Regions from separate parts of the Homo sapiens genome. Here region 2 is linked to region 1. The links come from fine-mapping of genetic effects on plasma protein levels. A gene starts in region 1. The other region holds a variant in brackets. All regions are shown on one strand. Distances are between the middles of the regions. Region 1 holds the start of SELP (selectin P). Region 2 overlaps SELP (selectin P).

What was found. PIP is the posterior inclusion probability: the model's chance that the variant is causal. The UK Biobank Pharma Proteomics Project read protein levels with antibody pairs (Olink). The fine-mapping took linkage between variants from a reference panel, not from the people measured, so its PIPs are less certain.
Region 2: its variant is fine-mapped to the plasma level of the SELP protein (UK Biobank, PIP above 0.99).

Annotation. Positions count from the first base shown.
Region 1 is chr1:169,629,004-169,631,923 of GRCh38, reverse strand. It overlaps SELP (selectin P), which reads left to right and starts at 1,800. Exons shown (of 17, transcript NM_003005.4): 1 at 1,800-1,852. The coding sequence starts at 1,850.
Region 2 is chr1:169,610,417-169,613,336 of GRCh38, reverse strand. SELP (selectin P) reads left to right here. Exons shown (of 17, transcript NM_003005.4): 5 at 223-408; 6 at 935-1,120; 7 at 1,660-1,845. Among named protein-coding and RNA genes, the nearest start is that of SELP, 18 kb to the left of the region's middle. The variant T/C (reference allele first, on the strand shown) is at 1,317.

The sequences.
Region 1 (2,920 bases):
TAATGGTCCTTACATGTCTATGTATTTGGTGATTATTATCCTTATTATTCACATTGCTGAGTGTATTATTCTGTTCTCATGATGCTGATAGAGACATACCCGAGACTGGATAACTTATTAAAAAAAAAAAGGTTTAATGGACTCACAGTTCCACGTGGATGGGGAGTCCTCACAATCATGGTAGAAAGCAAAAGACACGTCTTACATGGCAGCAGGGAAGAGAGAGAAATGAGAACCAAACAAAAGGGGTTTCCCCTTATAAAACCATCAGCTCTCATGCGACTTATTCACTACCATGAGAACAGTATGGGGGAAACCACCCCCATGATTCAATGATCTACCAGGTGCCTCCCACAACCTGTGGGAATTATGGGAGCTACAATTCCAGATGAGATTTGGGTGGGGACACAGCCAAACCACATCACTGAGGAAACTGAGTTATAGGGAGATTAGTAACGCCCAACACAGCTGGTAGGTGGTGGAGCCAGGCAGTCTGACTCTAGGGTCTGGACTCTGAACTGCATCATGCTGCCAAGAAGTTCCTCATTTTTTCCTCTCTCTAAGTTTCCCTTATTCCCCTACAGTCATTCCTTCAACAGCATTTCCTTCACCATCTTTTCTACTTCTACTATATAATTAATTTTTTCTTCTTGGTCCCAAATTCCAACGTGCAAATGCAGCCTTATATACCCTAATTCATCTTTACCTTTAGACTTTCTTCCAATGTTTCTACTTCATTCCATTTTAAATTTATCCATGAGATGCCTATTTACAAGCTGTAACCATCATGAAGTGAATGAAGAATAATACCTACTACTGTACAATAGAATTCCAAGAGTATAAATAGGAGTTATGGCTTTCTGACTTGAAACTAAATACTTGATACTTGATTTTGCTGTCTGAGATCAATCTGAAAAGTAATAATAATCACTAACATTTGTTGAGCATCAATTGTGGGCCAAGTGTCATTTCAATCACTCTGTACATATTAACTCATTTCATCCTACAACAACCCGGTGAGGCAAGTTCTGTTATTCTGTTTTACAGTTGAGGAAACAGAGGCATAGAGAGCTTAAGTAGTTTGCCCAGTAGATAGCCAGAAGAGGAGCCAGGATGGGTCTCGGGCAGTTTAACAGCACAGCTGAAGTCTTAACCACTATGCCAACAGCTTTTTGGTCCTACACATCCCATGGGAAGAGGAAAATAAAAAGGTATCTATTTGTATACCTTTTTATTTCTGATATAAGAAGCAGAATTCCTTTCACATGACCTATGTCTATTTAATACGTCATTTTGAAACTTACCAATAAAATTTCCCAAGCGCCAGAAAACTGTTAGTGGCTTTTTCCATTTCTCTCTATTTTTTTTTGTGCTACTAATTTTGCTTCTTTCCCTCAGAAGGCTGCCGGAATAGTAAACATTCACTGACATGTCATAATTACTGGAAAATGGGCACTGGAAAATCACATTGTAATTAATTCAAAGCATGTTTTCCAAATGTACTACTTTAAATTGGAGCTTATATCATAATCCAAGGAAACCTTTGTGTGTGTACTGTTCCCACATTGCTCAGCCTGGGATATCCAGGAGTAATTCACCTTGCGCCTGCCTCCAGACCATCTTCCATGGAAGGGGGTGACCCCTTGCCTCTTGGCAACCACTATTTCTAAGCTGCCAACATTACTCTTGCATTATCAACATTCTAACTTCATGGGAAGGGCTGTGGTGAGTTTCTGGAATGTGAATAGGAAGTTGTTTTTCTAAACAGCCTGACACTGAGGGGAGGCAGTGAGACTGTAAGCAGTCTGGGTTGGGCAGAAGGCAGAAAACCAGCAGAGTCACAGAGGAGATGGTGAGTTTATTTTTTTCTGCATGGGAAGTGGTTGAAGTGAGTTGGAGTGGTATGGAGTAAAGTCAGGCAGGTAAAGGTTCAGAAAGTGAGGAACAGCGATAGCCATGGAGTTTTATGTTGAATTGCCTATTAGATTTTGTGAGTACTTTTAAACTTGCTGTCCACTTTGACCCTCCCAACACCCTTGTGAGTTGAGGTTGCTATTTCTATTTTACAAATAAAGCCATCGTGGTTTACAGAGGCTGTGTTTTATCTAAGCTTCACTGTTAGGCTACATGATGTTGGGATCTGGGGCCTGTCCTCTGGCTCCGCAGCTGCTGTTCCTCCTACTAGAATTTATAGGGGCTCTCTGAGAATAGATCATGGTAAACCTGTCACCCCATTTTCCAAGACTGTACTTCTCTCTGGGATAAATGATGGAATAAATGGAAGACTGGGTAGGTGCCCTGGGACAAGCTTACAATTGAATAGTTTCTCATCCCCATCCCTCCCATTTCTTTCTGTGAGCCTATGAATCTTCTGGGACTGATCTGGAATATCCACATAGTTTCCTTTTCTGCCCTAAGACTCAATCTTGTTAATGACTCAGTTTCTTCTTCTATAAAATGGATATAGTAATAATACTCTATAGTTTCATCATGAGGATTAAATAAGATTTTGCTGAAAAGCATCCAGATCTGAGCCTGACACATAGTAAGTGATTAGTAAATGTTAGCCATTATTGTTACAATAAAAAGAAAATTCTTAGGAATAGTGGGGTTTAGGATTCAGGGAAGATCCAAGGATAGCTAGGCATTTTGAACTCAGCAATGTTATATGCTCATGGATAAGATGCACGTGGTTAGGCTACTTCTAATTCAGGGAAGATCCAAGGATAGCTAGGCATTTTGAACTCAGCAATGTTATATGCACCTAGATAAAATGCACATGGTTAAGCTACTTCCAATTTTCCTCAGACTTTCCAAGAGTATCCCACATAGTCCCAGGGTCCGAAATCCTGCAGTCTGTGGCTATGGAGGAACCAGGCAGGTCTCTGTTTTTGAGCACCTTTCTGTGGGACTCCAGAAA
Region 2 (2,920 bases), 19 kb after region 1:
TTTCAGGCTAATTTTACTTGTTTGAAGTAAAAACTTGTGAAAGAATGACTATTTCCCAAGATGCAGCCAATACAAAGAGACCAAGTAGAGATGGATAGCTTGGGTTAAAAGTTTAGAAAATTAGAGTTAAGAGGGTTACACAAATAGTTACAGCTTTCAGCAAACATGACATTGCTGTTAATTCTACATGGAAAATAAAAATCACTATTTTGTCTCCTGCAGTGAGAGAGTGTGGAGAACTTGAGCTCCCTCAACACGTGCTCATGAACTGCAGCCACCCTCTGGGAAACTTCTCTTTTAACTCGCAGTGCAGCTTCCACTGCACTGACGGGTACCAAGTAAATGGGCCCAGCAAGCTGGAATGCTTGGCTTCTGGAATCTGGACAAATAAGCCTCCACAGTGTTTAGGTATGTAGACCTTATTCTTTTCATCCTCACTGACATAGAATTTTGGGGGAGAAGAGGACACAATGAGCTTTCTCCATTAAAAAATGTGAGAAATAATGACCATCTAGGTTAGATGGAAAACTCTGGTTATCACTGTTAACTGTCAACCAGAGTAACATTAATTTCAATTTTCATGGTATTTTTTTATGGGTAGAGTGACTTAGTCAGTTTAATTGTTGATTCGCAGGCAAAAACATTACAAAGGGACCCCTCTTTCCCTTTGTTAATTGTAAAGTAAACAGAGTACAATGATGAGGACTTAGGGGTTAAGAATTATTAATTTGATAATTTTACCTAACTTCTCTACATGAAAAACAAGGGTGTTTGATCTTTCCAAGCAGCTATTGAAAACACCATTTAACCATTCTAGTGCATCAACCTGCCTGCCACTTTGGGAAGGTGTGACTGCTGCAGAATTTGAAGGCTTCCAAGGTGATGGACAAAATTTGTCCAAGGACTCACACTATTATTCTGTGGTTGGTTTTAGCTGCCCAGTGCCCACCCCTGAAGATTCCTGAACGAGGAAACATGACCTGCCTTCATTCTGCAAAAGCATTCCAGCATCAGTCTAGCTGCAGCTTCAGTTGTGAAGAGGGATTTGCATTAGTTGGACCGGAAGTGGTGCAATGCACAGCCTCGGGGGTATGGACAGCCCCAGCCCCAGTGTGTAAAGGTGAGTTTCAGGTAGTTGGGATGTATAATGTCCATTGCACCCAGTCCTTACTTAGTGCATAGATGAAATTGACCAGCTTATGGAGAAGCTGGCCTGAATTGCCAAAATTTAATTCTCTTCCTACCTGCCATTCAGCTAGATTGGGTTCATCTGAGATGAGAAAGGAAAAAAATTCCTTTCTTTCCCCAAACACAAA[T/C]GCAGGCAGTTTCAGAATGGCCTCATTCATAATTTCCCCATAAGATTAGAAAGGGTGGCCTCTACATCTATAAGTGGACACTAGAAGACCTACTGAGACAGGTTTATAGAAGTATAGGGAATAGAGGACATTAAGAATACAGCTTGGAGGAATCTTTGTTTTTAACAGACTCAGATCACCCTGGGAACTGGTAATCCAAGTCTGGACAAACATCATTAGGGTCTCTTGACCTTTACATCTTGCTAGCTCCACCTGCATTTCAGAGGTGGTTCCACCATTGCTCTCTGTGTGGCTTTTCTCCTTTCTCAGTATCTTTCTCTTTATCCTTGGTTATTCTCTCCAGCTGTGCAGTGTCAGCACCTGGAAGCCCCCAGTGAAGGAACCATGGACTGTGTTCATCCGCTCACTGCTTTTGCCTATGGCTCCAGCTGTAAATTTGAGTGCCAGCCCGGCTACAGAGTGAGGGGCTTGGACATGCTCCGCTGCATTGACTCTGGACACTGGTCTGCACCCTTGCCAACCTGTGAGGGTAGGATTTTTCATTAGCAACCTCCATTCTGTCCAAGAAGGAATCATGGCATGGTAGAGAGGCCAAGGGCTCTCAGTGTCGGGGTGATCTCTTCTAAGTTCTTGCACTAGAGCAAGCTCTTCAACCTCCAGGAACCATGGTTTTCTCATCTGTGAAATGGAGCTAAGAATTGCAAGGTGCTTGTGAGGATTAAGTACATAAAAAGTATACAATTAAATAGCATGTATAAAGTACCTAGCATAGAGCTTCTGCTCTACTGACATATCCGAGGTATAGGACCATGTCCTATACTTGAGAGGGAGTTGGGAGCAGCGGCTAAGGTGGCTAAAGAGAGTGGTTCACCATGTAGTCTTTGAGGGTAGCCTTTGACAAAGAAGCAAAGGAAGGAACACTGCATCGAAAAAGTGTGTGATGCAATCCCAGGCAATTACATAATTCCGCCAAAATGAATTCTCTGCAATTGCCTCACACCCTCAGTTTATAAGGCGGACAGTGGTAATGGGAGAATAGGAAATTTACGATAGATTAGTGAATTCCCAGACCTGGATGACAAGCCCAACCCTGCTACTATCTAGCTATGAGACTTTAGAGAAGTCACTTAACACTTCTGAACCTCACTTTTCTTGCCTAAAACATAAGAGAGAAGAGAGAAACACTAGAGGATTTTGGTGTTTTTGTTTGTTTGTTTGTTTGTTTGTTTGTTTGTTTGTTTTGAGACAGAGTCTCACTCTGTCGCCCAGGCTGAAGTGCAGTGGCACGATCTCAGCTCACTGCAACCTCTGCCTCCCAGGTTCAAACGATTCTCCTGCCTCAGCCTCCCGAATAGCTAGGATTACAGGCAACTTTTTGTATTTTTAATAGAGACTAGGGTTTCACCACTTTGGCCAGGCTGGTCTCAAACTCCCGACCTCAAGTGATTCACTCACATCAGCCTCTCAAAGTGCTGGGATTATAGGTGTGAGCCATTGTGCTCAGCCGGATTTTTGGTTCTTAAATGCTCTGAGTCTGTAAAAACCAGAGGTCAAAGCCCAGAGCAAAGAGGTAGTCTTTACACTTTGAAAAGTTTCAGAAATAG